Homo sapiens: one gene and its partners. The protein of the gene in region 1 binds, or shares a complex with, the protein of each later gene. Each region holds a gene or a part of one and is shown in the gene's direction. Other genes may lie near its edges. The genes, in order: NUP107, CETN2, NUP93 and NUP153.

Evidence for each region.
Region 2: NUP107 (region 1) and CETN2 share a complex: the UniProt entries of both Homo sapiens proteins name them as parts of the nuclear pore complex.
Region 3: NUP107 (region 1) and NUP93 share a complex: the UniProt entries of both Homo sapiens proteins name them as parts of the nuclear pore complex.
Region 4: NUP107 (region 1) and NUP153 share a complex: the UniProt entries of both Homo sapiens proteins name them as parts of the nuclear pore complex.

The regions. Positions count from the first base shown.
Region 1 is NC_000012.12:68,731,971-68,739,000, forward strand, and holds part of NUP107 (nuclear pore complex protein Nup107), read left to right. Parts: intron 1-666; coding exon 667-769; intron 770-1,481; coding exon 1,482-1,642; intron 1,643-2,737; coding exon 2,738-2,863; intron 2,864-3,260; coding exon 3,261-3,374; intron 3,375-7,030. UniProt on the Homo sapiens protein: Plays a role in the nuclear pore complex (NPC) assembly and/or maintenance. Required for the assembly of peripheral proteins into the NPC. May anchor NUP62 to the NPC. Involved in nephrogenesis.
Region 2 is NC_000023.11:152,827,728-152,835,154, reverse strand, and holds the start of CETN2 (centrin-2), read left to right. Parts: upstream 1-4,397; 5' UTR 4,398-4,444; coding exon 4,445-4,447; intron 4,448-5,394; coding exon 5,395-5,553; intron 5,554-5,877; coding exon 5,878-6,006; intron 6,007-6,480; coding exon 6,481-6,618; intron 6,619-7,224; coding exon 7,225-7,314; 3' UTR 7,315-7,427. Other genes in the region: NSDHL (sterol-4-alpha-carboxylate 3-dehydrogenase, decarboxylating), read right to left, coding at 428-432. UniProt on the Homo sapiens protein: Plays a fundamental role in microtubule organizing center structure and function. Required for centriole duplication and correct spindle formation. Has a role in regulating cytokinesis and genome stability via cooperation with CALM1 and CCP110.
Region 3 is NC_000016.10:56,725,873-56,733,128, forward strand, and holds the start of NUP93 (nuclear pore complex protein Nup93), read left to right. Parts: upstream 1-4,256; 5' UTR 4,257-4,339; intron 4,340-7,256. UniProt on the Homo sapiens protein: Plays a role in the nuclear pore complex (NPC) assembly and/or maintenance. May anchor nucleoporins, but not NUP153 and TPR, to the NPC. During renal development, regulates podocyte migration and proliferation through SMAD4 signaling.
Region 4 is NC_000006.12:17,703,912-17,711,396, reverse strand, and holds the start of NUP153 (nuclear pore complex protein Nup153), read left to right. Parts: upstream 1-4,471; 5' UTR 4,472-5,009; coding exon 5,010-5,120; exon of another isoform or gene 5,121-5,267; intron 5,268-7,485. UniProt on the Homo sapiens protein: Component of the nuclear pore complex (NPC), a complex required for the trafficking across the nuclear envelope. Functions as a scaffolding element in the nuclear phase of the NPC essential for normal nucleocytoplasmic transport of proteins and mRNAs.

The DNA.
Region 1 (7,030 bases):
TTGATTAATCACTAACTTATGTAGCTTGCTTACTCATATTTTCAGAAAGGAATAGAAAGTTATATCTAAGAAAACTATTTTAGAGTAACATTTAAAGGAATCACGTGGTTAAGTTGGTAAGGCATACAATATATAATTCCAGATTAATATTTTCTATAATTTATTTTTATTTTTATTTTCTTGAGACAACAAGGTCTAGCTCTGTTACCAAGGCTGGAGTGCAGTGGCGCTATCTCTGCTTACTGCAACCTTCGCCTTCTAGGCTCAAGCCACCCTCCCTCAGTCTCCCGAGTAGCTGGGATTACAGGCATGTGCCACCATGCCTGGCTAATTTTTTGTATTCTTTGTAGAGAAGGGGTTTTGCCATGTTGTCCAGGCTGGTCTCGAACTCATGAGCTCAAGAGATCCGCTCGCCTGGGCTTCCCAAAGTGCTGGGATTACGGGTGTGAGCCAGCATGCCCAGCAGTATTTTCTATAATTTAATAGAGAGCTGTTAAATATGAAAATACACTAAGGAAAGTTAGATGCTTTCATAATTTTGTATAACTTGAGAGAAAATGATGTTTACTGGAAGTACAGGTGTAAGTTAATTCTACTAATTTGTAGAATATCTTTAAAAAAAAAACTCTGATATTCCTTTTTCTTTTTTTCCCCTTTAATAAATAGGAGGATCGTTTAAAAATTGATGTAATTGACTGGTTGGTATTTGACCCAGCGCAGAGGGCAGAAGCACTGAAACAAGGCAATGCAATTATGAGAAAATTCTTGGGTATAGTATATTTTTATGCAGCTTCAAACTCCTGGGCTCCATTCTTCTTCCTACCTCAGCCTCCCAAGTAGCTGGGACTACAGGCACCCACCACCACACCCACCTAATTTTTAAAAAATTTTTTCTAGAGATGGGGTCTCACTATGTTGCCTAGGCGGGTCTCGAACTCCTGGCCTGAAGCAATCCTCCCACCTCAGCCTCCTGAAGTGCTGGGATTATAGGCGTGAACCACCACACCCAGATTTTTTATTCTTTTTTAAAACGTTTTTGTTCAAATTCGTGTATTTTTGAATTTGGGGTGGGGGGTTGCTTTTTGTTTTTGATCCTTCCATAGGGAGGAGAAAACCAGCCACTCTTTATCTATCAAACCTGGTATTATGAAACAAAATATATTTTAATGGTGAATTTTCATTGTCCTAATCAATTTTGCAAATAATCTCAAGGCTATCCGACTTTGAAAAATGAATTGCTTTAAGACATAAAAGTATGTAAAAGTAACTGCATTTGATGTATCCTTTTGTGATAGTATCACATTGAGATACGAAAAAGCCAGTCTATCAGGTAGAAAGATCACCAAGACCTTTAACAGAGTGCCTTGGGCCCTGAAATAGTTACAGGTCACTGTAAAATTGGTAAACCAGTGATTTGACTCCTTTAGAAACCATTACAGAGAAGTCCGTAGGCATTCAAAATTGTGTATCTTTTTTCACAGCATCAAAAAAGCACGAAGCTGCAAAAGAAGTATTTGTGAAAATTCCTCAGGATTCTATAGCAGAAATCTATAATCAGTGCGAGGAACAAGGAATGGAAAGTCCACTTCCTGCTGAAGATGATAATGCTATCCGAGAACATTTGTGCATCAGAGCTTATTTGGTGAGACTGTAAAGAAAGCCACAGATGTGCCTACTTCATGATGATTTTTCGGATTCACTCTCAGAGTTTGAACTTTTTTCTAGAAGTAGTGTTGGTTCATCTTACCTCTCTTGTGACTATAGTGCTGACTCATCCACAAGGGGACTGACTTCATGACCTTATCTTCATTAGCATGATTCTCTAATCAATGCTAACCAACCAAGATCATCTCACATGGTAGATAGTGTCTATGATGTCTGGAAGTTATGTTTTCTTAAGATTTTGTGATGCATGTCTCAGCTTTAAATTTCTGCTTTTTTCAATAACTGAGAAAAAGCAAGATGCTCTAGGTTTGTTATGACTAAAATAGCAGCATACTCATTCAAAATTCATTCAAGGCTAGATGCGGTGACTCACGCCTATAATCCCAACACTTCGGGATGCCAAGGCAGAAGCATTGCTTGAGCCTGGGAGTTCAAGACTGGCCTGAGCAACACAGTGAGACCCCTGCATCTCTACAAAAAAATAAAACAAAATTAGCCAGGCATGGTAGCATGTACTTGTAGTCCCAGCTTCTTCAGAGGCTGAGGTGGGAGGATCGCATGAGCCCAGGGAGTTGAGGCTGCAGTGAGCAGAGATCATGCCTTGTCTTTATTAGATCATGTACTCCAGTCTGGGTGACAGAGCAAGGTCCTGTCTCAAAAACAAAAAAAAAATTTTATTCAATAAATAATTATGTAATTACAGTGGGTTAGGTAGTAGGGCCAAATCTGTGGATAGCACCCTATCCTTGCCCTCTAAAAACTAATAGGCTAGTTAAGAAGACAAGTACACATGCATATGTTACAGAGCGATGAATGTCAAGATACATATACGATCAGGGTGCTCAGATTGGAGAATATGCCAGAAAACACAATATATATACCTTGTTTGTCACTTGACAAAACATTTATTCATGATATGAATTTTTGGAGGGAAAAAAATATATATTGAACAGTTTTATTTCTTGATGCTGCAAAATTATTTCTAAGAATCAAATGTTAAAAATGTTGGTGAAACGATAAAAGTGAAAACTTTTGTTATTTTATATTTTGGTTTTTTTATTTCACATTTTAGGAAGCCCATGAAACCTTTAATGAGTGGTTTAAGCATATGAATTCAGTTCCACAAAAACCTGCTTTGATACCTCAACCAACTTTTACTGAGAAAGTGGCTCATGAACACAAAGAAAAGAAATATGAAGTAAGTTAAATATGGATCTAGGATGTGCCTACTGCATCTTATAAATGTGTGTTGTATATTTAAAGAGATCGTTTCTTCAGCAACTATCTTTCGATCATAACAGGTAATCTCCCTGTTAATGTCCTGCTTTGGAAGATGCAATCTGTTTAGTTACTTTTCTGTAGGTAATTAACCAAACATGAAAAATGCCTTCAGGTGACATGAGCGTTCATTTACAAAGTTAACATTTTAGCGTTTTACTTAACTGCAGTCTGTTGATACTTATTTTTGTACTTGGCAGACTGAAACATCAACTCTTTAGAATGATGTTCTATATGTATGTTCCTGTCTGTATTTTCCAAATACATTATTTATTGGGTTTTATCCATTATATGTCTGCCTTGTGTTTGTTTTGCAGATGGATTTTGGTATTTGGAAAGGGCATTTGGATGCCCTAACTGCTGATGTGAAGGAGAAAATGTATAACGTCTTGTTGTTTGTTGATGGAGGGTGGATGGTGGATGTTAGAGAGGTAAGCTGTGTGCATTGTTTATAGCCAAAAACCAAAACACTCACCATGTTCTTTTTTAAAAATATTCTGTCTCTAAATGGGAGCATCTACAGATTTTACATAATTGTAGATATAGCTAAATCCCATGTTTTAAGCTAAACTGAAAATACTACCTAGGGAATGGGAATATTTGATTCTTGGATAAACTATTAGTTCACATTTACTATGTTCACAGAGGATACAAAAATCTAATTTTTAAAAAATTCTGGACCTAAAAATTTAATTATACATGTATGTCACTCCATTTACAGATATAAAGATAACTCGAGTAGTATCAGTAAGGCATAGCTAAGGTAGGGGCTCTCACCTCTGGGCTGTCCATTTTAATGACCTGGCAGACTTTTTAAAAACACTACAGGGTTCCACTCCCAGAGATTATGGTGTAATTGGTCTGAGGTAGGGCTGGGGTTTATTTTTGTTTTTTTAATCACTTGCAGTGCTTTAATATAATATATAGCCTGTGTTGAGAACCAGCTACAGAAGTATCAAGTGCCATAAGAAAGGCACAGGTTAAGTATTTTCTGAGTCCAGGAAAAGAAAAGATTGTTTTCACCTGAAAGGGAACTGGAACGTATGCTTGAAATGTATAGCATTTGACTGAATCTTGAACATACTGGTAGAATTTGGATGAGCTGAGATGGGAGAAAGGAAGGATACTGAGATAATAGTCATATAAGGGAAAGACATTGCAGCCTGACCCTGGTGCATGACAGAAACAGTGAGTAGCTTAGTTTATCCTCTGTAGACCTGAGGAGCTGTCTGAGAGCTGGAAATACTGGCTTCTTGGATATTTGATGTGTTATTTTGAACAAAGAAAACAGTAAGTGTTCTTGGTATCTTTCCTTTTGCCATTCTTCATACCCTCATCTATTTAGTACTTTTTCTTTAATTTTAGCTATTGCATTTTTTTTTTAGCCTGTCTTCTCTGACCAGAAGGAGGAAAAAGAATACAGGCAGGACAGCGAACTAAATTTGAGCCCCTATTTGCCACTATTACTGATGGAGTAATTATCTTAAATGTCTCCACTTTATTTTTTCTTTTTTTGTTTTAGAGACAAGGTCTTGCTCTATCACCCAGGCTGGAGGACAGTGGCTTCATCATAGCTCACTGCAGCCTCAAACTTCTGGGCTCAAGCAGTCCTTCTGCCTCAGCCTCCCCAGTAGCTAGGACAACAAGCACACACCACCATGCCTGGCTTTTTTGTTTGTTTGTTTTTGACACAGGATCTTGCTGTGTTGCCCAAGCTGGTCTTGAACTTCTAGCCTCAAGCTGTCCTCCCACCTTGGCCTCCTGAAGTGCTGCGATTACAGGCATGAGTCAATGTGTCGCCACCTTTTTTTTTTTTTTTTTTTTTTGAGAAAGAGTTTTGCTCTTGTCGCCCAGGCTGGAGTGCAATGGCACAATCTTGGCTCGCCTCCCAGATCCTCTTGCCTCAGCCTCCCAAGTAGCTGGGATTACAGGCATCCACCACCACACCCAGCTAATTTTTGTATTTTTAGTAGAGATGGGATCTCACCATGTTGGCCAGGCTGGTCTCGAACTCCTGACCTCAGGTGACCCACCTGCCTTGGCCTCCCAAAGTGCCTGAGATTACAGGCGTGAGCCACTGCGCCCAGCCAAGTCTCCACTTTTTATCCTAACGTTCGTAATAGAACTCCTTTGACTCGTTTTAAACCTTCCACAGGTTCCTCTGGCAAAACCTTTCTCATCTGATTCATGCTGATTCTCTTGAAGATAAAATTTTAATGTTGTAAAATGCTAATTAAGTGTCACTTAAATTTTGAAAAGACTTCAATGCTTTATTTATACATACATCTTTGCTATTCTAATTATTAATTAAGTAGATTAGGTAGTGAAAGCCACAAAATAGTCTTGGGATCTCATAAAATTAGAGTTGAGGCCAAGCGTGGTGGCTCACGCCTGTACTCCTAGCACTTTGAGAGGCTGAGGTGGGTGGATCACCTGAGGTCAGGAGCTTGAGACCAGCCTGGACAACATGGGGAAACCCCGTTTCTACTAAAAATACAAAAAAATTAGCCTGGTGTGGTGGTGCATGCCTGTAGTCCCAGCTACTAGTGAGGCAGGAGAATGGCCTGAACCCAGGAGGCAGAGGTTGCAGTGAGCCGAGATCGTGCCACTGCACTTCAGCCTAGGTGACAGAGTGAGACCCTGTCTCAAAAAAAAAAAAAAAAAAAAAATGGAGTTGAGATGGAAGGCAATGAATGATACACCATTTTGTTTCATCAGGGATTTTAAAATCAATATTCAGTCTCAATTATTTCTTTAAAACTTCAGTCTCAATTATTTCTTTAAAACTAATCCAGAAAAGAGATTTCTTGAACAGTTAAATGATTAATAACATTTTAATCACCTTTGTTGAGCCTAATACTCTTACATAGTCAATGACGTAGGGCATTGTTCAAGGCCCCTGCTAACACGTGTCACTTGTATGTGAATTAGAAAATTGTAATTCTATCTGGGAACGGTGGCTCATCCCTATAATCCCAGCACTTTTGGGAGGCCGAGGAGGGCAGATCACGTGAGGCCAGGAATTCGAGACCAGCCTGGCCAATATGGTGAAACTCCGTCTCTACTAAAAATACAAAAAATTGGCCGGGCACGGTGGCTCACGCCTGAATCCCAGCACTTTGGGAGGCCAAGGCTGGTGGATCAGAAGATCAGGAGATCAAGATCATCCTGGCCAATATGGTGAAACCCTGTCTCTACTAAAAATACAGAAAACTAGCCAGGCATGGTGGCACGTGCCTGTAGTCCCAGCTACTTGGGAGGCTGAGGCAGAAGAATCACTTGAACCTGGGAGGCGGAGGTTGCAGTGAGCCGAGATTGCGCCACTGCACTCCAGCCTGGCAACAGAGCGAGACTCTGTCTCAAAAATAAAAATAAAAATACAAAAAATTAGCCGGGTGTGGTGGCTCGCGCCTGTAATCCCAGCTACTAGGGAGGTGGAGGCAGGAGAATCGATTGAACCCAGGGAGGCGGAGGTTTCAGTGAGCCAAGATTGCGCCACTGCACTCCAGCCTGGGCAACAAAGGGAGACTCCGTCTCAAAAAAAAAAAAAAAAAATTGGAATTCCCTTCCCTTACATAGATAGGTTCCATGGCAAGTGCACACAATATGTAAGACAGAACACAGGCTAGATTTCAGCCCCACTTACTTGCTTGGCCAGCCACCCTTGTACAAGGCACGGCTGTACACAATAGCCCTAGCATTATGTGCTGTTTTCGTATAGCTACCCCTCAAGTTTTTAAATAACTGGAATAGTCCCCTTAGTGTTGGGGCTGGTGGCACAGAGGAATGGCAGAGAGAATGGAGCAGGCAGGTCATCTTTACCTACCTTTCACTACCTCTACCTCTAGCACATTCTAGTCCAAGCCTCTACTGTCTTCCGTGGCTTCTCACTGTTCTTTATACAATCGTTCCTTATACAGATGGACTAGTGACCCTTTCAGAATAAAATACATGCGACTGTCTTACCCAGAACTTTCTGATGCCTTCTTATTGCACTTGGAATAAAATCTTTCTTTTCTTGATGTACAAGAGTATACATACTTTTGTTTTGTTCTTTTTTTTTTAAACTAACCCCCTAATCTTGTGT
Region 2 (7,427 bases), on another chromosome or scaffold:
ATAATGAAGGTGTGTGCCGCCTCATGTGAAGCGAGAAGAGAGAAGCGAGTTAGCCCAACCTCCTCCTTCCTGCTGGGGAACATTTCCTGGAGGGAAAAGGAGAGAACATTCTGTCTCAAACTAGGGAGAGAGATGAGAGCGTCCCGTCCTTCTAGAAAGAAGTGTGACATCTTTGTAAAGGGGAAAGGTTGTCGGAGCCCCACCCTTGCACAAGGTCCAGTGCAGGAAGCTAGAATGTGGCCACTGAGAGCTCATCCCTTCAGTCCATGGGCAGACAATGCCAGGCAAACTGCCCTTCCCCAAACACCTCAGTAGAGTTTGGCTATCCAAGGAATGCCAAGTAATGTTTCTTAGAACTTTCTTTGGAATCCTGAAATGGGGGCCTAAGCCTTGGATTATAAAAGAGGATTCCCCTATTTCCCATCACCTCATGCCTCATGCTTGGCCTCCTCTGCAGGACTGGGCCAGATGATCAGATGCAAAGAGAAGGATTCACCTGAGGCGGCACACACCTTCATTATGGACATATTTCTTAGAGAAAATACAGCAAAGCAGGAGCCCTGTAGGAACAACAATAAAGCCTCCCTTTCAGAATTCAAAGATGTGATATGGGAAAGAAAATACCCAGATTAGGATTAGTGAGGCCAATAGCTTGGAGGTCATTTCTCTTTAGAGGTGTCACTTTAGCCTTGATTATGCTGGGGCAACCCAGCTTGACCTTGTCCTTCCACGGACCTGCGGTGTCCATGTTTCCACCAGTTGTTTGTTTCTCTATTTACTTTTAGGACAAAAAAAGTCGCCAGCTTTTATTTTGTGGTAGACCTCTCAGAAACCCAGCAGCATGCCTGTGAGCTTAGCTTACGCTGTTCCTCTGCATGGAATACCTTCTCTCTCCTCTCCACGGTGAGTGCCTCCTCTTCCTTCAAGGCCTAGCTGAACTGCCCCCTCTGTGAAACTTCCTCCCCCTCCCCAGGGAAGGTGAGTCGCTTCCACAGCACCTGTTTCTGCTCTCATCCTCACACTCAGCACCCTGTAGGACACCACGAGCCCCTGGAGGCCCAGCAGACAGCCTGGAATGGAAGATGGGTTTGAGTGAATTATCGTGCTGCCGCTGGCCATGAGGCCTTATCTGTAAAACAGCGTCCTTCTTCCCTACCTCAGAGCTACTGTGAGGCTCAAACAAACCCCCAGGGTTAAAGCGGGAGCTGTAACTTGTAAAAGAACCCCCAGGTGTCACCTCATGCATTGATTTCCTCATTCACAAGTTATCAAATGCCAGCCACTACCAGGCAGAAGCTGACAAAGACACACTGCCAACCTTCAAGGAGCCCGCCATCTAGGGTGGGAGACAGGAGCAAGCAAAGAGTCACAGAAGTGCGTTTCCACTCTGATGAGGGCAAGCCCAGAGCACCAATGCAGGCTGCTGGCTCAGGGAAGCCTGCCCCAACTAGGAGATCCCTAAGCTGACTTCAAAAGGCCCCAGAAGAGTGAGTAAAACAGAGCGCATGGTGTCCTGAAAGACATTCCATGGCCAGGGTGGGAAGGACAAAGTGATGGCACAGAGCCAGCATGTTCTTATAACAGTGACAAGCTGTGTCACAGCAAGTGTGAAGCAAGATCGGGAGCAAAGTTGAGAACATGTGGGGGCTGTGTGCCAAGCTAGGGAGTTACAAGGGGGGAAAGATGGTGGAGCCCCTAGAAGTTGGAAGCAGGAGTGAGTGTTGCGACTGGAAAGATCACCTTGGCTGCAGTGCAGGGAAGAGATTTTGGACAAGTCTAAGGCTCCAGGCATGGTGGGCGGGGGGGAATGACAAGAGCAAATCAGAGACAAGAACTACATTTGACTCTTGAACAATGTGGGGGTTAGGGGCACGGAGCCCCGAAGTCAAAAATCCACATATAACTTTTGACTCACCTAAAACTTCACTAATATAGCTTACTGTTGGCTGGAAGCCTTACCAATAATGTAAACAGTTGATGAACAAATATTTTGTACATTACATGTATTACATACTGTGTCCCAGCAATAAATTAAGCTAGAGAAAAGAAAATGTTACTATGAAATCATAAGGAAGAGAAAATATATTTACTATTCACTGAGTGAAAGTGGATCATCATGGTCTCCATCCTCACGGTCTTCCTGATGAGTATGCTGAGAAGGAAGATGAGGAGGAGCTGATCCTGCTGCTCAGCGGTGGGAGAGATGAGAAAAAAATCTGCCTGTAAATGGACTCACAAGGTTCAAACCCATGTTGTTCAGGGGTCAACTGTAATACTGCCTGAAGACCTGCTCAACATCAGGCCACTTTACATATAAGTAGTTCATCCCATTGAGATGCAAAAGTATCCCATCAGGTAGACAGTACTGGTCTCACTCAACAAATGAGAAACAGGCTCAGAGAGGTTAAGCGACTTGCCCAAGGTCACACAGCCTGCACACAGCCTGCGCAGAACTTGTGTTTTTCCCTTGTACTCTGTCAGGCTTCCGATCTGCAGGTTGACGGACTGGGAAGCAAGGTATGGAGGGACATTAAGCTAGAAGGGTTACCAGGGGCAAAACTGGGCAGAGGGATCACAGGCCAGGCTAAGGAGCCCTTTACGGTTCAGGCTCTGAAGGTTTAAGAGCAGGGAGATGCCCTGACCAGGGCCGTTCACTACGAAGATTAACCTGGTAGAGCAGGGAGGACTAGCTAGGTGAGAGCTGGGAAACAGGGGAGCTACTCATCAGTTGTCTAATATGTGCCCCTCTCTGTTCTAGGTCCTGGAGTACCAGTAGTGAATACAACAAAGATGCCTGCCCTCAGACAGCCTGCCTTCTAGTGGAGGGACAACAAAGAGCAAAACAAACAAGCAAAATATACAGTAGGTCAGAAGGGGATAAGAACTGTTGGAAAAAAAAGTAGAGCAAGGTGAGTGGCTTGTTTGTACTGGGGGCTGCAATACTTAAATAGGGTGCCTAAGAGGAGGCAGGCGGAGAGGACAACTGAGACAAAGATGAGAGGCAGGAGTGTGGCTGGCACATGAGGTTCAACCACAAAGCCAGTGTTCTGGGGCTGGAGTGAGCCAGACGAGAGAAGAGTTGTGGAGCGATGGAAGGGGACACGTCGTGCCAAGCTTTGGAGATCACAGTGAGAACTCTGGCTCGTACTACTTGGGGGGATGATGATGACCCAAAAGTCAGGAATCTGTTCACTGCTGAAGAGAGAAGAGGGCAAAGGGCAGCAGCTCCATTTAAAAGGTTCTAATAAGCCTCGGGCCTTTCTCTGTCTGAGAAACTTACTCTCTGCCCTCTGTCTCCCTAGATTACTGCCCCTATGCCTGGAGGAAAAACAGGTGAAGGCTAAAAGCCACGGGGATAGCTAAAGAGGGCAAACTGGACCTCCAGCTCCACTTCTGCAGGTCTATGTCAGTCCACAGCCCTTGCACACGCTCCCTTTTAATTCTCCAAGCATACCTCTCACTTCCAAAACTCCTGTGACTCTGCTGATGAGGGCGTCTCGGCCTGGAATGCTCCTCCTTATCTGCATTGTGTGGGTGTCAAAAAGAGTATATTTTGATGACCTCTCCCCGCCCCTCATGCTCGCTCACATCCCCCTCACTCCTTTCAAAGTCCGTTCCCAAAGGCCCCAGTTCACCGTCCTGGGCTGCTTTTAGCCAGGTAAGATCTAAAGTGATCCTCTCTTGGAACCTGGTCTGGGGCCTATACATCTGGGTCAGTCTAGGGGTGCTCTCGAAGGGCCACCCTCAAAGAGCGAGCCTCGGCTGGATTCAGTTCCTAGGTCCCAGCCGTCCGACCTCTGCGACAACACTCAGCACACCCCTTCCCCTCTCCGGGTCTCAGTTGCCCCGTGAGTACAGTCCCTGCTCCAACACGCAAGGTAATCGTTTCTGGCTGCTCTGATGCACTCGGTCCCTAAACTCAGCCTTAGGTCAACCCAGAAAGCACCCGACCCGGGCGACCCCGTAGCTCCCCACCCTCCCGCACTGCCCAGTCGCTGACACAGGGTGACCTCCAATGGCAAGGCCACGACTCTTACCCGTCCGTAGGCGCCCCCCTGTCTGGCCTCAGCTCGCAAGCAGGCTGCACCCACTGAACTCCAGGCCCGGACCGCCACCCTTTACTCCCCTCCCGCGTGAGCCGAGAATCAGCCGAGCTTCCTCCACCAAGAGGATTGGCCCAGCTCGGCGACGACTCAGCCAATTGGCGCTCACGGCGTGATCTTGCCCAATAAAGACGGGGCTCTGTCGCCAGCGTGCCCCTCCCCGCGCTGGGCCGGGGCTTTGCCAGGTTAGTCCCACCCTCTTCGGCCCTGCACCAATAGGGAGAGGCGGCGACGAGCGGACGGCCAATGGGGAGCGGGGCTGCGCGCGCGGGGCGGTGGGAACGGCGCCGAGTCAGTGTACACGTCGGTTGCCTAACAACCGGCAGCGGACTCCTTTGGCTATGGTGAGTGCTGCCGCTCTGTCGCGCCCCACGCCCAGCGGCTGAGCCCTTCCCAGGCCCCAGCTCGGCCACGCCGCCTCTCCTGCGCCTTTCTCGGCTTTAGCGCACCAGTCTTTCCTTTGAGCTCTTTCCCGGGAGAGTAGGGTACAGACGCTAACCAACCTACTGGGCCTGCGCTTCGCTGCTGCCTCCTCTTCACCCACAACAGGCCCACACCCGCCCCTCGGGCTCCCCTTGCATTCCCTGATCCCCTCGGTGAACCTCCCTGGGCAAAAAAGACTCGAATCCCTCACAGGCCCCTGACTCTCTCAGACCTTGGCCCCCTGGCCTCCTCATTCTGCCAAAATTTCCACACACAGCTGGGAAAAGGTGTATCGTGTTCTGTTACAATGTTTTTTACAATTTAAATACAGGGGCATTCAGGGGATGCTTTAGCTTCTTGGAGAAGGCACGAAGGTGCCAGATGGATTGAGTTTTATTACTCGGTACTGACACAATATACATCTTAACAACTTACTAATATTTGGCCAAATCTAGAAGTAATTGGGAAGTCGGAGTACTTACTGGGAAGGGGAGTACTGGGAGTGGGCATCGTAAGACTGTTTTCAGAACCAGGATCCCCACGTTCGGGAAGAGCTGATTATCTCTAGTTATTCACAGTCATCTTCTTGACTGGCTCTCTTTTGGGATGATTTTCAGTAAGAGGTGTCCTTACTGAACAAGTGATCTCCCTGCTTCTAGAAACAACAGTAAAGAAAAGGGAGGGGTAGAAGTTCATGGAAAGATTCATTGTTCTTGCCAGTAAACCCTGTTATCTTTCTTTTTAAGCAAAGCTTTGGAATTGGTTATATAAATGACTTTAAAAATACATATGGGTGTCTGTAACTATGTTATGTAAATATGGACTGTATGATATATTATTGTGCTTGTGTATTGCATAACATATAAAGGCCTCCAACTTTAAGAAGGCAAACATGGCATCAAGTTCTCAGCGAAAAAGAATGAGCCCTAAGCCTGAGCTTACTGAAGAGCAAAAGCAGGAGATCCGGGAAGCTTTTGATCTTTTCGATGCGGATGGAACTGGCACCATAGATGTTAAAGAACTGAAGGCAAGCTCTGTGCATTCCTGCCGTACTGCCCTTCCTTTCCTCTGCCTCTTCCTTGTCATCTCCCTATCACCTCTCTACCCCTTTTGCCCTCTTCTCCCTGCAGTAAGTAACAGGGGAGGTTGTACTGTGCTGTTTTCCTGTCTTTACTTACTTTGAGTATTATTCAATAAAATTGATTGCAAATATCAATTAGATCAATGTCATAGTGTTCCCCAATCATATTAACATGACCACATCAGATGCTGGCTTAATGCTCTCAACACTGTTATTTTTGCTCCTGCTACTTTAGATGTGCTTATTGAGACGATCCTGTTTTCTTTATAGGTGGCAATGAGGGCCCTGGGCTTTGAACCCAAGAAAGAAGAAATTAAGAAAATGATAAGTGAAATTGATAAGGAAGGGACAGGAAAAATGAACTTTGGTGACTTTTTAACTGTGATGACCCAGAAAATGGTAAGTAGCTAAGACAATTATCATGGTATGGAGCCCCAGTCATCTGCAGAGGTCCATGGCGTCTTCCTGTTAAAACAGTCATGTGACCACAGAGCAGTCCAGGTAGCAACTGCATCAGGAGGCCTGCCCTCCCATCATGTTACTTTGGGCTCCCAAAACAAGCCCTTGTGCTTCTTTCTCAAGACTTCCAAGCAGATACCTCTTCCCACAGAATTCCAAATCAGTTAGGAAATAGATATGGGATAGGGAGAGATATAGCGATAGGTAGCAAACGTCACCTTGGATGGAGTGCCTGGCTTGCCTGGTGTTTCTTTGAGGCCAAAATGGGCTTCCTGACACTTGCCGCAAGTCTAGACTCGAGTTACATTGTTAAAAAGGAAAGGGTGACCTGACCAGGCAGTGGCAGGGCTACAGGACAGTAGTAACCAACCGTGGTGTCCCCCTACTCATGTGTTTTATGTTCTACTTGTTAAGTCTGAGAAAGATACTAAAGAAGAAATCCTGAAAGCTTTCAAGCTCTTTGATGATGATGAAACTGGGAAGATTTCGTTCAAAAATCTGAAACGCGTGGCCAAGGAGTTGGGTGAGAACCTGACTGATGAGGAGCTGCAGGTTTGTAATGCATCACACTGGAACTTAAAATTCCCACCTTTGAGCCCTCTGTGACTTTTCCATTACATTTTCCCTAGTGTGAGCACCTCTTTGAAGAAAAGCCAGTGTACTTTGTCCCTCTGCAGACAACTTAATTCTCCTTTAATAGTCAGACAAACCTATGAACCCTGCTTCCAGAAAAATGCACATATGCACAATTTTGCTTACTATTTTAGGTTCCAGGAATCCCTCTAGTCAAGGCAATCTTCAAGGTCCCTCCCAGGTGATATGTTTGACAAAGTATGAGTTGGTTTTCAAATAACTTTTCAGAAACCAAGCTATTATCAGGAGTAGCATACTGGCATTGGGTGGACTACAATGATCTATTCACATAGATACAAATTATCTATTCACATAGATTAAAAGTCTATTGCTTGCCAGGCACAGTGGATCATGCATATAATCCCAGTACTTTGGGAGGCTGAGGCAGGAGGATCTCTTGTGGCCAGGAATTTGAGACCAGTGTGGGCAGCATAGAGACCCCATCTCTAAAAAAAAAAAAGTCTATTACTTAGTCACCTTTTGGCATTAGTTTATAAATTAACCTGAATCTTTACTGTCATATAGGAAATGATTGATGAAGCTGATCGAGATGGAGATGGAGAGGTCAGTGAGCAAGAGTTCCTGCGCATCATGAAAAAGACCAGCCTCTATTAAGATCAGTGTCTTCTTTTTCTACTGCAAGCACATGTAACTAGATTTAGTGCCTGCCATGGTGTGAAATCTGGCTTTTGAGAACACAAACTTTTCCCCCACGGACCTCCCTTTAT
Region 3 (7,256 bases), on another chromosome or scaffold:
GAGCCCATTTGATGCATCATGATCACCCAGTCTGTAGTTTACATTAGGGTTTACTCTTGGTGTTGTACATTCTGTGGGTTCAAGCAAATTTGTAATGCCGTGTATCTAAAAGCCTCATCTTTTTAATAATTAAAGTTGACCATTGTCTTCACTGAACTTACACAGAAACAAAACCATGCAATATAATTCTGTATTCCTTGCCAAGTTACAATGTCATTGTGGAACAAAATGCAATGAACATGAAAATAAGACTTTCTCAGCTTCTTTGTAAATGGAACTGTTTAATATTATTTTGTTAATGGGTAGAATAAAATGTAATCTGATGGTGAAAACATTCTTCTTGACATTGTGGAAAATACCTCCCTATATTGCATGTGATGGAAAAGCAATTCGACTGGGAAAAGTTTACTGAATTAAGCTTACTGAATTCTGGCCTATTGACCTTATAATAAGCATGTTAGATGAGACGTTATAAGGGCTCAAGTAATACCTGCATCCTTCAGGATTATTTTGATTGCAAGTGATGTAAAACCTCAGTGAAATTGAGCAAAAAATAAAATTTTCTGGGTCATGCAACAAAACATTCCAGGGTTAGGGTTAGCTTTAGGCACAGCTTGATCCAGAAGCTGTGTCACAATGTCACTTGAGTACAGGCTCTCTCTCCATCACTACATGGCTCTCTTCTGTATTGTCTTCCTCCCCAGACAAATTCTTCCCTTGTGGACAATAAACAAACAGGCCGGGCATGGTGGCTCATGCCTGTAATCCCAGCACTTTGAGAGGCCAAGGAGGGCAGATCACTTGAAGTCAGGAGTTCCAGACCAGCCTGGCCAATATGGTGAAACCCCGTCTCTACTAAAAATACAAAAATTAGCTGGGTGTGGTGGCATACACCTGTAATCCAAGCAACTAGGGAGCCTGAGGCACAAGAATCACTTGAACCTGAGAGGCAGGGGTTACAATAAGCCAAGATTGTGCCACTGCACTCCAGCCTGGGCAACAGAGTGTAACTCTGTCTCAAAATAAACAAACAAACAAACAAACAAACAAAAATTTGAAAGGAATGATAATGCCTACAAAAACATCTTCACAGTTCTAATTTATTCCAGTCATAAAGATAAGTGTCTGAGCAGAACATCTTAAGAGTGCATTTTCTTGATCCTATTGGGTTCTAAACCAGTTCCTGAACCAGTCCCTGTGGCCAGGGTACTGCACTACTCTGCTCTGATTGGCGAGGCCTGAGTCACATGCCACCAATCAAAACACAGGGACTGAGATTTGGGGCAGGAACGCTCCACAGGGGAGTCCAAGTGTTAAAAGACGTCCCATTAGAGAGCAAATGTCTGGTAATACGGTATAGTGCGTTGAATACACATCCCATATACTCAATGAGTTCATCTGAAGACTAAGAATATTCAAAAGCACAATTCAACCAGACGAGAGTACAAAGGCCTGTGTTTGTTTGATATCATCATGCAGCCAAAAAAGGTAGAGTTATACACTTGGTATGTATAGAAGACATGCAAAATCTGTGTTACAATACAGGGTTCCATCAAATACTTCCTTTGAAAAACAGGATTCTGTTAAATAATGTTTGGGACCCAGTAGGACTAAATGAGGGAAGGTAAGGACTCTCCACCACCACCCAGCTCCCTTTTAAGTAGGAAAGAGCTTGAAAATCCCCACCTCTGAGAAAGGGGCCTTGCGGGGGCTCTGGGGCACATCTCAGAACAATTCTCAAGGCAAAGGCTCTTGAAAGATTCTGAGCTCAGATAAAGTGATGTTTAAGGAAGCTCTTCTGGCAAGGCATGAGCCAATGCACCCAGTTCTCTTAAAAACAAGAAAACAAAAAACAAACCAAAAAAACCAAATAATATATTGTTTATGCACAGATACATTTGTGATAAAACTATAAAACATTGGAATGATAAATATGAAATGTCAGATTGTGGTTATCTCTGGGGATAGGAAGGTATATGGGAAGACCATCTGGAAAACTGCAAGGTTTTTTAAGATGAGGTGTCACTCTGTTGCACAGGCTGGAGAGCAGTGGCACGACCAGGGCTCACTGCAGCCTTGACCACCTGGGCTCAGGTGATCCTCCCACCTCAGCCTCCCCAGTAGCTGGGACTACAGCTGCACACTACCATGCCCAGCCAATTTTTTTGTATTTTTTGTAGAGACAGGGTTTCACCATTTGCCCAGGCTGGTCTTGAACTCTGAGGCTCAAGCTACCCTCTTGCCTCAGCCTCCCAAAGTGCTGAGATTACAGGCGTGAACCACTGTGCCTGGCCACTTTTTCCATTTAACATTATGTTTCCAAGATTCATCCATGGTGTATCTGTGGCTGAAGCACACTCATTTTTCACTGCTGTGTAATGCTCCATTGCATAATATCCCACAATTTATTTATCCTTTTTTTTTTTTTTTGGTTAACAGATATTTGGCTTGTTTCAAGTTTTTTGCTAATATGAACTGTGCTGCTATGAAGATTCTTACTTATAACTCCTGGTGCATATGTGTAAGAGTTTCTCTAGGGCATATATCTAGGAGTTGAATTACTGGGTTTTACAATGTAGAAATATTCAGCTTTAAAAGGCAAGTGTCCGGAATTTTCATTTGGCAATATTGCACAAGCATTTGTCTATGTCATTAAAAGTGCTTTTTTTTTTTTTTTTTACATAAAGAAAAAGCAAAGTAAAAGTATAAAACATTATTCAGATGCAAGATACTATTATCTTTGTGGATATTCTCTGACCATAGCGGGGTCTGGTTACATATATAATAGCTTCAGGGCAAAGGCCACATTCATACATATTGTTAATCAGCACCAATTATTTATAGAGAACTCACAATATGCTGGTGTGAGGTATTAAAAATAAACAAAGCTGGACACTAGTTGCTATAGACTTCTTAATGTTTGTGTCCTCCCCCTTCAAATTTATATGTTGAAACTCTGCTCTCCATTGGGATGGTATTAAGAGGGGAGGACTTTGGTAGGTGATTGGGTCATGAGAGTGAAGCCCTCATGAATGGGATTAGAGCCCTAATAAAAGAAATATTGGAGAGCTCCCCTCACCCTTCTGTGTGTGGTTACAGGGAGAAGAGTGCTATATTAGTCCGTTCTCATGCTGCTGTGAAGAAATACCTGAAACCAGGTCATTTATAAAGAAACGAGGTTTAATTGACTCACAGTTCCGCATGGCTGGGGAGGCCTCAGGAAACTTATAATTATGGTGGAAGGCACATGTTCACAGGGCAGCAGGACAGGGAATGAGTGCAAGCAGGGGAAATGCCAGACGCTTATAAAACCACCAGATCTCATGAGACTTACTATCGTGAGAACAGCATGCCAGAAACTGCCCCCCATGATCTGGTTACCTCCACCTGGTCTCACCCTTGATATGTGGAGATTATGGGGATTATAATTCAAGGTGAGATTTGGGTGGGGACACAGAGCCAAACCATATCAAGTGCTATCTATGAATTAGGAGGCAGGCCCTCAGCAGACACTGAATCTGCGGGTGCTTTAATCTAAGGCTTCCCAGCCTCTAGAACTGTGAGAAAAAAATTTCTGTTGTGTATAAGCCATCCAGTCTATGGATGAGTCTGACCCCACTTGTCCCTACTCACCATCTTCCAGCCGCACACCCCTTCTTTCTAGTCTCCAAACACTAAGCTGGCTTCCCCTGGAGACTTCACTCTTGTTCCCTCTGCCTGGAATTCTTTGAAGCCAGAACTTTGCAAGCCCCATCCTTTCTCATCCTTCTTTATTCAGCTCAAGATGTCGCCATCTCAGAAAGGCCTCCCTTCAACATCCAAGCATTCTCTCTCCCATCACCCTGTTTTTTCTTCATAGCTCTTCTTGCAAAGTGCAGTTATTTATTACATTTTTGTTTCCCCTGCCAACCTGGGAACTCAATGAGGGCAGCGATCTTGTCTGACGTGGTCGCCACGGTGTTGCCAGTTCCTAGACTAAGGCCTGGCCCTTGGATGGCGCTCAAGAAGGAGTAAGAAATTCCTTTAACTTAGGGAATTCTGGAATCGCTTTCTCCCGGCAGAGCCGACTCTAACCAAGTGGGAAAGGCGAGGTCCGTGGCTGCCTGTGGCCCAGGGGTGACGGTTTGGCCCAAGGCCCCACCTCCGCCCCGCCCCCGGCCCCGCCCCTGTTCTTGTCCTCCCCCACGGGTCTCCATAAAGTTCATTTGGCGTCGCACCGCGCGAGGGCTTCTGGGAGCGGCCAGCCTTGGCCAATCAGGAAGCGGGGGAGAGCGGCGCGAGAAGCGGCGGCCGCGTCCTCAAGCCGGCACCTGAGCGGCGGAGACGGCTGTAGCACAAGGTAAGGGTGTGTCTGGTCGCGTCCTTGCGACCCTGGGCTTGTCCTTGAACCCAGGACCCCGTGACTGGGTGGAGCGCCGTCCCCACGCTCGGAACCCCGCCGCTCATACTTCCCGTTCTCCTCATGGCAGCCGGGCACGCCTGACGCCGGCGACACAACGCCTTGTCGAGCCGCCCCCGAGGCTTGGAGTCGGGCTGCATCCCTGGGGGTGCCTTTCATTCGTCCACTTTCTGAATGCAGAACCTAGGCCTCCCGACTCCCCCTTCCCCACTGTGGTGCCCTCGCGCCACGCCCCTGCCCTCACCTCCACCTCGTGCCCCGCGAGCCCACCCTGCCTAAGCCTGCGCCACAACGCCCCGCCTGCTTACCTTCCTGACCGTGCCCTGCCTGCTTGCCTACCCCTCGTGGACACACCCTGTAGGGAGGCGTTGCTCTGCGAGGGAAGGGGTCTTTGGGGCGAGGGGAACTTATCCCAACCCTTGGCTTACCTTTTGTACATCCAGGAGGATGCTGGTGATTGGAACCCAGGGGTGGCCCACCCTTCTCTGTGCTTACTCCATCCCGTTCCCTGCAGAGGCGATGCCCAAGTTCACTGGGTTTCTTTTGAAAAAATTATGGGGCCGACCCCATGGGTCCTTGGTGAAAGTATGAAAGACACGTTGACAGAGCCTCTGGTCTGGATTTGCCCTTCTGCCAGACGTGGGAAGGAGGTTTTATTTATTTAATTTTTATTTTGACCGAGTTGTCTTTCAGCAAAAGCGAGGGTCACCTTTTTGTATTCTTTCCAGGGTATGTGGGAGGGTATCCTCGGTCATCCTAGCTTTTCTTCTTTATTTTTTTTTCTTTAAATTCTCCTTTGTGCATTTGTGTTTGCAATATTTTTATTTTCATTGATGGTGATTTCATAGCATTAAATACATACATATCAGAGGCTAACAGATTCCGTATTTATATCTCCATCGCAGGTCTCACCCCTGACTTTTATCCAGCCACCCACTTAATATCTCCACTGAGATGGGTTATAGGCAACTCAAATTAAACATGCCAAGAGAGGGCTAGCAAGCTCCCCTTCATTACTCTCCCCAAACTGCTCCTGTTGCCTCTTTTTTCTCATCTCAATAATAGGAAAGACCTTGGCTAATAACTTTTGAGCCATCGTTGACTGCTGTCTTTCTTTTTCTTTTCTTTCCTTTTTTTTTTTTTCTTTTGAGACAGTCTCCCTCGGTCGCTCAGTCTGGAGTGCAGTGGTGCGATCTCGTGTCATCGTGTGACTGCAACCTCTGCCTCCCAGGCTCAAGTGATTCTCCTACTTCGGCCTCCCAAGTAGCTGGGATTACAGGCGTGTACCACCTCACCTGGCTAATTTTTGTATTTTTAGTAGAGACGGGATTTCACCATGTTGGCCAGGCTGGTCTTGAACTCCTGGCCTCAAGTGATCCGCCCATTTCGGCCTCCCACAAAAGTGTTGGAATTACAGGTGTGGGCCACCACACCCAGTCTTCTGTTTTTCACGCCACAAATAATACTTGCCACCCTGGGCCAGGTCACCACCTCTGGTTTGGATTATTGAAATAGTTTCCCATTTGGTCTTCCTGCTTCTGTCCTGGCCCCTGTTTTTTGCACAGCAGCTAGAGGGATCTTTTTAAAACACAGGCTGTCAGATCGTATCATTCCTTTACTTAAAAGAAAAAAAAAACCCTCCAATGGGTCCCCATCTCATTAATAATGATAGACAAACCCCTTTACAGTGAGCTATAAGGCTTTACATAATCTGACCCACTGTTACTTTCCCAGTCTCATTTTCTGCTCCCTCCCTTTCCAAACGTCAGACATGCTTTAGCCTCAGGGCATTTGTGCTTGCAAGTTAATATCCATGTAGTTTGCACTCACTTCTTCCAGGTCTTCACTAGGGAGGCACCTAGTGAGGCTTTCCCCATTTCCCGCCTCCCTTCATTGCTTTAGTTGTTCTTAGCACTTATATTTCACGTATTTTTCTTGTGTATTGTTGTCTTCCCCCTGTAGAATGTGAGTGAGGGGATTTTTATCTGTTTTGTTCACTGATGTGTTCCTAGCACCTAGGTCTGGCACACAGTAGGTGCTCAAAAAATATGAACTAGATGAATGTTACTGGCACTCTTGCAGGCATGGGGATGCAGTGGTGAATGAGACAGGCCTGCCCTCATTGAACTGATAAGCCTGTGGAGGGTACCACTAGCAATAAAAGCACAGATAGGAAGTGTGATGTCAGGGCTGTTTCTTAAAGGAGGACAGGGATATTTGAATAGAGACCTGCTTGAAATGAATGAGCAGGTCATGGGACTATCTGAGAGCATTGCTGGTAGTGGGTAGAGCAGGTGCAAAGACCGTGCAGTGTGAACAGCTGGAGATGTGGTGAGCCTGAGGGTCTGAACCAGCCTCTTCATAGACTGATGTAGAAAATAAGGTTGACAGAAAGATGGATGTGCCAAGGAGGGGGACAGGTTGGAGCAAAGATCCGAAGGTGAGAGGGCCCACTCCTCATGAAAAAGTTTATTTAAAGAATATGGAGTTAGAGGGAAGATCTTTCACTGGTGTGTTCAGGGAACAGGTCACTTTAATTCAACAAATATGTATCTGATCCTGTTATGTGCCAGACTTAATGCTGAGGACTCAGAGTTGAGCATCTGTGGACCTTACCCTATAGGAAATTTGCCACTAGAGAGGGAGACATATGTGTGATGAAATAATCACAACTGCTGCACTAGGGAAGAACAGTATAGAAGATTCAGAGTAGTGTGGGAGGGGTTGGCATAGGTGGGACTTTCCCAGCTGGCTGCAGCATACATAGGAGTTCCCCATGTGACAAGATAGGGTTGGGGATGTGTTATAGAGAGTGTGTACTTAGCATGTACAGGAGTATGAAGGGAGGAAACAGGCA
Region 4 (7,485 bases), on another chromosome or scaffold:
TCAGGAAGAGGAAATATATGGCATGTTGGAATCAAGTGATATATGTAGTTAATCAAAATTTGCTCATATTAGTTAATTTAGTCTTAAATATTACTTTATTCCCAATAGAGAGAGAACACAGTAAGTTAATGAGAATACAATGATTTACATCCTTAAATATCTTTCCGTTGTGTGGCCCTTCTTTCCCTAAAATACAAGCAAACAGGCAATAAATAAATAAATAAATAATAAATAAACCCAATAGCTTCATTTTCTTTATTTTTTTCTTTAGAGATGGGGTCTCACTCTGTTACCTAGGCTGGACTGCAGTGGTGAGATCATAGCTCGCTGCAGCCTTAGACTCCTGGGCTCAAGTGATCCTCCTGCCTCAGCCTCCCTAGTAGCTGGGACTACAGGTGCACACCACTAAGCTCAACTAATTTTTTCATTTCTTTGTAGAGAAGGGGTCTCGTTATGTTGCCCAGGCTGGTTTCAATCTCCTGGCCTCAAGTGATCCTCCTGCCTTGGCTTCCCAAAGTGCTGAGATTATGGGTGTGAGCCACATGCCTGACCAGGAATACACTTTAAAATAATAAAGTATGGTAGCAACAGGAAATGGCAAGGAGTGCCTGTTAAAAAAAAAAAAAAGGTATAGTAAATACATAAACCAGAAACAGCCACTTATCATTATGAAGTATTCTGTACTGTACATAATTGTACATACTCCACTTTTACACAAATGGCAACACAGTAGGTTTGTTTATACCAGCATCACCACAAACACGTGAGTAATGTGTTGCAATAAGACCTTAGGACAAAGACAGTATCACCAGGCAATACGAATTTTTCAGCTCTTTATGGGACCACCATTGTATATTGGGCCCATTGTTGATTGAAACATTGTTATGCTGTGCATGAGTGTGATAATTTGTTTTAATAGACATCACAGCAGATACCTCATTTTGTTTTGGTAAGGTGGAATAACTACATAAAATTTCGTAACTTCTTGTACTTGTCATCTTTAAACATTCTTTTGGCCAGAATTGTATTAGTACCTTCTGAAGAATGTATGATGGCTCTTTTTCAATCTAGGTTGGGTTTAGACTAAATTGTATTTCACTTTTAATTAGTGGATACTCCTTATCTATTAGAGATGGGTCAGCAGCCTATTTGCTAATTTATAATTGGCAGCTGGTTACATATATATATATACATATATATATATATTTGTTGTTTTAATTTTTTAATTTTTTTGATATGGAGTCTCACTCTGTGGCCCAGGCTGGAGTGCAGTGGCATGATCTCAGTTCACTGCAACCTCCACCTCCATGGTTCAAGCGATTCTCCTGCCTCAGCTTCCCGAGTGGCTGGGACTACAGGTGAGCACCACCACGCCCAGCTAATTTTTTTTTTTTTTTTTTTAAGTGGAGACAGGTTTCACCATGTTGGCCAGGCTGGTCTCGAACTCCTGACCTCCAGTGATCCACCCGCCTTGGCCTCCCAGAGTGCTGGGATTACAGGTGTGAGCCACTGTGCTCGGCCACTTTCTACTATATTATATGGGGAACAAAATAAAGAAGTTTCTTGGCAGAGGAGGACTATTGTAGCAACAAGCTTTTCATGAATTGCAGTGTCTCCCAATATGCCATTTATTTGGCTGAAAAAACTAGGTCCAGGTTGAATGCAGATTTCCTCCTGTCTCTTTATTCCTTCTCTGCTCTCAAGCCTGGCACGGCTTCCAATGACTCAATCACATGAATGTGAGATTAATGCATTATAGTTCCCTCAAATACTATTTTACTTCCAAGAAATAAAATAATTGTGGAAATGGGTAAAAAGTTGAGAGCATGGGTAAAAGGAATGTGGATTTTCCCATATCTCCTCAAGTTCTACCAATCTTCTATTTCTGAAGCATTGTCTACATTTGGCCCAATTCTTTCGCGTCTCTCTTCCTTTCAAAGGTTGGCTGTGAAGGGTGTCCAGCACATCAAAGAATAGCCTCCAAGAAAGGGGTGAGCTTTGATTCCAGTCAGTCCTCTGTTCTGTGGTGGAAACTCTGGGTCTCATAGAGTGAAGAGGGCAGATGGGATGTGGCTATGGTTTAATCTCCTCTACGTATAACCCAATTAAAGATTCAGGTACAGATCTTCCCTATGAGTTAGCTTATCGTGAATTACTTTACTTGGCTGTCAAATATCTAGCTATGGATTTGTGGAAGAATAGGATTTCTGCATAGGAGGAAGATAGCACCTGAGGGAAACAACTGTCTTTAAGAAAGATGAAGTGCTTCAGGAGGAAGAGGGGGCATACCTGGAGAATTTAGTGGGAAGTTAGTGGTGGGAGGAGGCATGAAGCTAGGATGAGACAGCGGAAAATAGATTAATTTTGTTTATCATATTTGGCAACTTGTCTTGATCTTGATGGTTATGGTCAGAGGTGCCACTGAAAGCCATTGATGTGTACACCTATGCTTGGTATAGCATAGTTTCTTTAGGCGCTGAAAGGTACAAGTTCAAAGGTACTAGAAGACTGGCTTTACAATTTCACTTGTATGATTTAAACAATGAACCTGAATTGTGCAGTTTGATTGTGGAGATAGTATAAATGTCTTGGAACTAATTATTTATATCTGATTGATGGTTGATATTGGATGCTTTCTATCTAAGCAGTTACTATGAACTAGATATACATTAATCCTTTCACCAGACCACTACCCTGTGAGGTCAATATTCGCTCTATTTGCTGATGAAAAAAACGAAGCTTAGAAACAGGATCAGTGGGCTGGGCGCGGTGGCTCACGCCTGTAATCCCAGCACTTTGGGAGGCCGTGGGCAGATCACCTGAGATTGAGAGTTCGAGACCAGCCTGACCAACATGGAGAAACCCCATCTCTAGTAAAAATACAAAATTAGCCGGCCGTCGTGGCACATGCCTGTAATCCCAGCTACTCGGGAGGCTGAGGCAGGAGAATCGCTTGAACCCAGGAGGTGGAGGTTGCTGAGATTGCGCCATTGCACTCCAGCCTGGGCAAAACAAGAGGAAAAAACTTCGTCTCAAAAAAAAAAAAAAAAGAAAGAAACAGGATCAGTAACTTCCCCAAGGCTACACAGCTAGTAAGTGGGAGATTTATAGTAAATAGGCTGGGCGTGGCGGCTCACACGGGTAATCCCAGCACTTTGGGAGGCCAAGGCGGGTGGATCACTTGAGGTCAGGAGTTCAAGGCCAGCCTGGCCAACATGGCGAAACCCCATCTCTACTAAAAATACACAAATCAGCTGGGCGTGGTGGTGCACGCCTGTAGTCCCAGCTACTTAGGAAGCCGAGGCAGGAGAATAGCTTGAACCTGGGAGGCAAAGGGTGCAGTGAGCCAAGATCGCGCCACTGCACTCCAGCCTGGGCGACAGGGCAAGACTCTGTCTCTCAGAAAAAAAGAAAGAAAGAAAGAAAGAAAAAAAAAGATTTATAGTAAGTCTAAGATTTTTCACAACATATTTTTCCTCCCTAATCATTTGGCTATTTGTCTTTAGCTCTTACAGAAAAGTTGGGTTATAGTCCTGGCTTTGATTACCCATCTCAGTGTCATTGATTGTGCCACCTAAATTTCTCTGGACATCTTGTCTGGTTGGTTGAATGAGAGGGTTGGACTATGTGATCACCAGGACCTTTCTAATCGTCAACTCCTAGAATATACATTTTGTGGATTCAGTCTTTGAGTCTAGCTCACTTACTCAGTTTCCTAAATATTTGGAGCAAATATAGTATACTTTTATTGTTAAGGATATATCACTTACCCCTAATGTTAGCTGACTGCATGGGTTATAATTGTAATCATTCATCGCATTTTTCGTCTATTAGCAAATATACATGCTCTCCATAGATGATCACGTCTGCTCCTCACAACAGCTTTATAAGGTGGATTTTAAAGCTCCCATTTTATGGAGGAGGAAGCTAAGGCTCAGACGGTTTTGATTCATCCAAGGTCAAATAGGTTGGGTGGCAGAACCAGAATTCCAGCCCCGTGTGTCTGCAACAAAACCTTTATATGTTTAAAGAAACATTAATGAAGCCGTATATATTTTCTAATTCTAAGGATCATGGACTTTATTTTTCAACCACAGATTTTTTTTTCCTCCTTCTTAAATCATTAGCTCTTGTCTTTGATTTTACTGTCTGCTTACTTCCTGCCTACTTAACCAACCGACAGGGAGAAGGAGAATGGGAAGAGGTTACTGTTTTTATGTTAAGTGTCTTTTCAAAGTCTAATTTACAGCCAAGAACAGCAAAAGTACCCCTTGGCTTTGTGCCTCTGCGGCGCCCCGGAGATCTCCTTCCCCGTCCCTCTTCCTTTCCGAGAAGCCGCGTTCCGTTGTTGAACTACGTTTCCCAGCGTGCCGCGCGGCCGAGAGCGTGGACTCGACCAGCCCTTCCTCTTTGCCTATCAGCTCGTCGCAGCATGATGATGCAAATGCGTCGGGCGCCGATGAGTGACGACATTCTGGCTCGCGACCGCGGCAGCCGCCTTAGCAGGGGTAATAGGCGCAACGGCGGCGGAGGCTGCAGGGACGACGACGACGACGGCGGCGGGGCGGGCGCTGTGCGCACAGGGGAGGGGTAGGCGGGCGTCGCCAGCGGCTTCAACTGCGGCAGCTACGGCTAGGGCGACGGAAGAACTCCCACCAGTCGGCGGTCGAGTTAGGCCTCAGCACCGCGGGGAACTGTTCGTGCTGTCCTCTGCGGGAGATCTCCATAGAGACCGTGACACACACAGAGGCGGGGGTCCGCAGAGGCGGCCGGACCGGAGCCTCCTCGGCCTCTGCGGCCGCCACCCCCTTCCCCGCTGCCAGCACTCACCCTCTCTCCGCTCCTGCTCGCAACCTCGCGGTTCCTGGGGTGCTTGTGCCCACTGTGTGGACAGCGCGGGCGGACTTTTGGGCCGGGGCCGGGCGGCGGGGGAGGCTCTCTAAGGCCTCCGCCTCTGCCTCTCCCGCCCCCTTACCCGCCCCGGAGCGGGAAGCGGCGGAGGCTCCGCCATGGCCTCGGGAGCCGGAGGAGTCGGAGGGGGCGGTGGCGGCAAGATCCGGACGCGGCGTTGCCACCAGGGGCCAATTAAGCCTTACCAGCAGGGGCGACAACAGCATCAGGTATGGGACCCCGACGCCGCGGTGGCCTGGCGGGTGGGGAAACTCGGCTGGAGGGGACGGGCGGTTCGAGGCCCCGGCGCCCCACGTGGAGCAGACAGGAGGGCCTGAGGAAAGGCCCGAGTGAGGCTCCGGGGGAGCTCAGGCCGTTGGGGGTGGCGACGGGAAGTGGGCTGAGACAGGCCCAGCCTTGCGGCGCACACGTGTGGTTTGGGCCGCCTTTCCCCCAACTCTCTGGGTCAGGGGCTTTCCCAGGCAGGCTCTGGGCGGGAAAAGAAATTGTAGGCCCATGATGCGCGCGTTTCTTTATTTTTTGGCGGGGATTTGGAATTTGAGGGTATTACTCATGTTCTCTCGAGGGAGAAAGGAAAAGATGTGGTTGATGGCCCTTATACTTGCTGTTTTCTGGTGTCCCTTCTTTAGTGTGTTTGAGGAGGGGGGGCTGCCCCTTGGAATCTTAACTCTGGGGCAGACGGGGAGTTGTGGGGGGCGCTGTTACATGGAAAGTGGAATAACTTAGTCTCAGCCTATGAGTTAATTCTCGGTTTCCCCTGCCTGTGGCCCTCCTCGTCTTGAGAGCATTGGCTTAGATTTTATTAACCAGGTTATAGTTAACCGTGGCACTGGGGCATTTTGAAAGTCCCTCTCCACCCTTACGTCTTTTCTCTGCTGCGCGACTCCCCTCCCCCCCCCCAACACCGCCACCCCCGCCTTTATTTTGGAGGCTGGAATTGGCCATTCTCCACAGTTGACCGGGACTCCAGCTCTGATCTCATACACAAAATATTTTAATATTATGAGGCGTATTCTAGAAGTATAGTTACTTTTGACACTCCAGGAATGTTGGTGGTCTTATAGTTTAGCCACTGTATGAACTCCTGGATGTTTAAAATTATAAAAAAGGATTATCCTAATTGTAAATGAGATAGTTGATTCTGAGAAAATTCCATTTTTAAAATATTGATTGTTAGAAGTATTGAATAGGAAAATGTTAACTTATTTTAATAAAGCCACTTATCAGTGATACTGAGGTGGGAAGTGTGTGTCTTAAATTTGTTGAAAAACAAAAGTGTAGCAAAAGGATCTGATAACTTGTTGCCTACTGTTAAAGGTAGACTTCCTAGATTACTTTATTCTGGATGCTAATAAAGATTACACACTTTCACATGGTTGATGTTGTTAAATTGTGTCATTATCAACAGATTTTTAAAAGTAAAGATTTGGGTCGGGCGCGTTGGCTCACGCCTGTAATCCCAGCACTTTGGGAGGCCGAGGCGGGTGGATCACCGAGGTCAGGAGATCCAGACCATCCAGAGACGGTGAAACCCCGTCCCTACTAACAAATACAAAAAATTAGCCGGGCGTGGTGGCAGGCGCCTGTAGTCCCAGCTACTTGGGAGGCTGAGGCAGGAGAATGGCTTGAACCCGGGAGGCGGAGCTTGCCGTGAGCAGAGATCTTGCCCCTGCACTCCAGCCTGGGCGACAGAGCGAGACTCTTGTCTCGAAGAAAAAAAAAAAAAGTAAAGATTTGAGGAATTTTTTTTTTTTTGTCTTCTAGTTTTCTTAAATGTTTTTTATTTTGAGGGAAATGTTTGAGTAGTAAAAATTGTGGTTCAGGTATTTTCAGTCGTTCTCTACTGATGGTTAGGTTTGGCACTGTTACTACTCCCACCAGTTTTCCCCCAGATATGTACATAAAGTGCTTAGTTTTCAAATTTGTGAAGAAAAGGGGTATTTGCGAGCAGATTTAAGATTAGAATTCAGGTCACAAGCCTGGCCATTTAACCTAATCCGTCTGTAGAATGGAAGTTACACATGCATGCTTTCTTTTCTCCTATGAATGCCTTTGAGTGCTTAGATTTTCTTGTATGACATGTAGAAAAATGACTTGTTTTAAATATAGGTCATTGGATGGTCTGAATAGAGGTTAGAAGGGAATTAATATTTTCCAGATGTCTGAAGTTATCACAGCTTTTTTTTTTTTTTTTGAGACGGAGTCTCGCTCTGTCACCCAGGCTGGAGTGCAGTGGCGCGATCTTGGCTCACTGCAAGCTCCGCCTCCCGGGTTAATGCCATTCTCCTGCCTCAGCCTCCAGAGTAGCTGGAACTACAGGCGCCCGCCACCACGCCCAGCTAATTTTTTGTATTTTTAGTAGAGACGGGGTTTCACCATGTTAGCCAGGACGATCTCGATCTCCTGACCTCGTGATCTCCCCGCTTCGGCCTCCCGAAGTGCTGGGATTACAGGCGTGAGCCACCGCGCCCGGCCCCTGATCACAGCTTAAATGTACTTAGATAAAATAAAAATCTAATTTTGGGGAGATGATGTCTTAACAGCATAACACCTATGATCCAAGGTGTCTTAGAG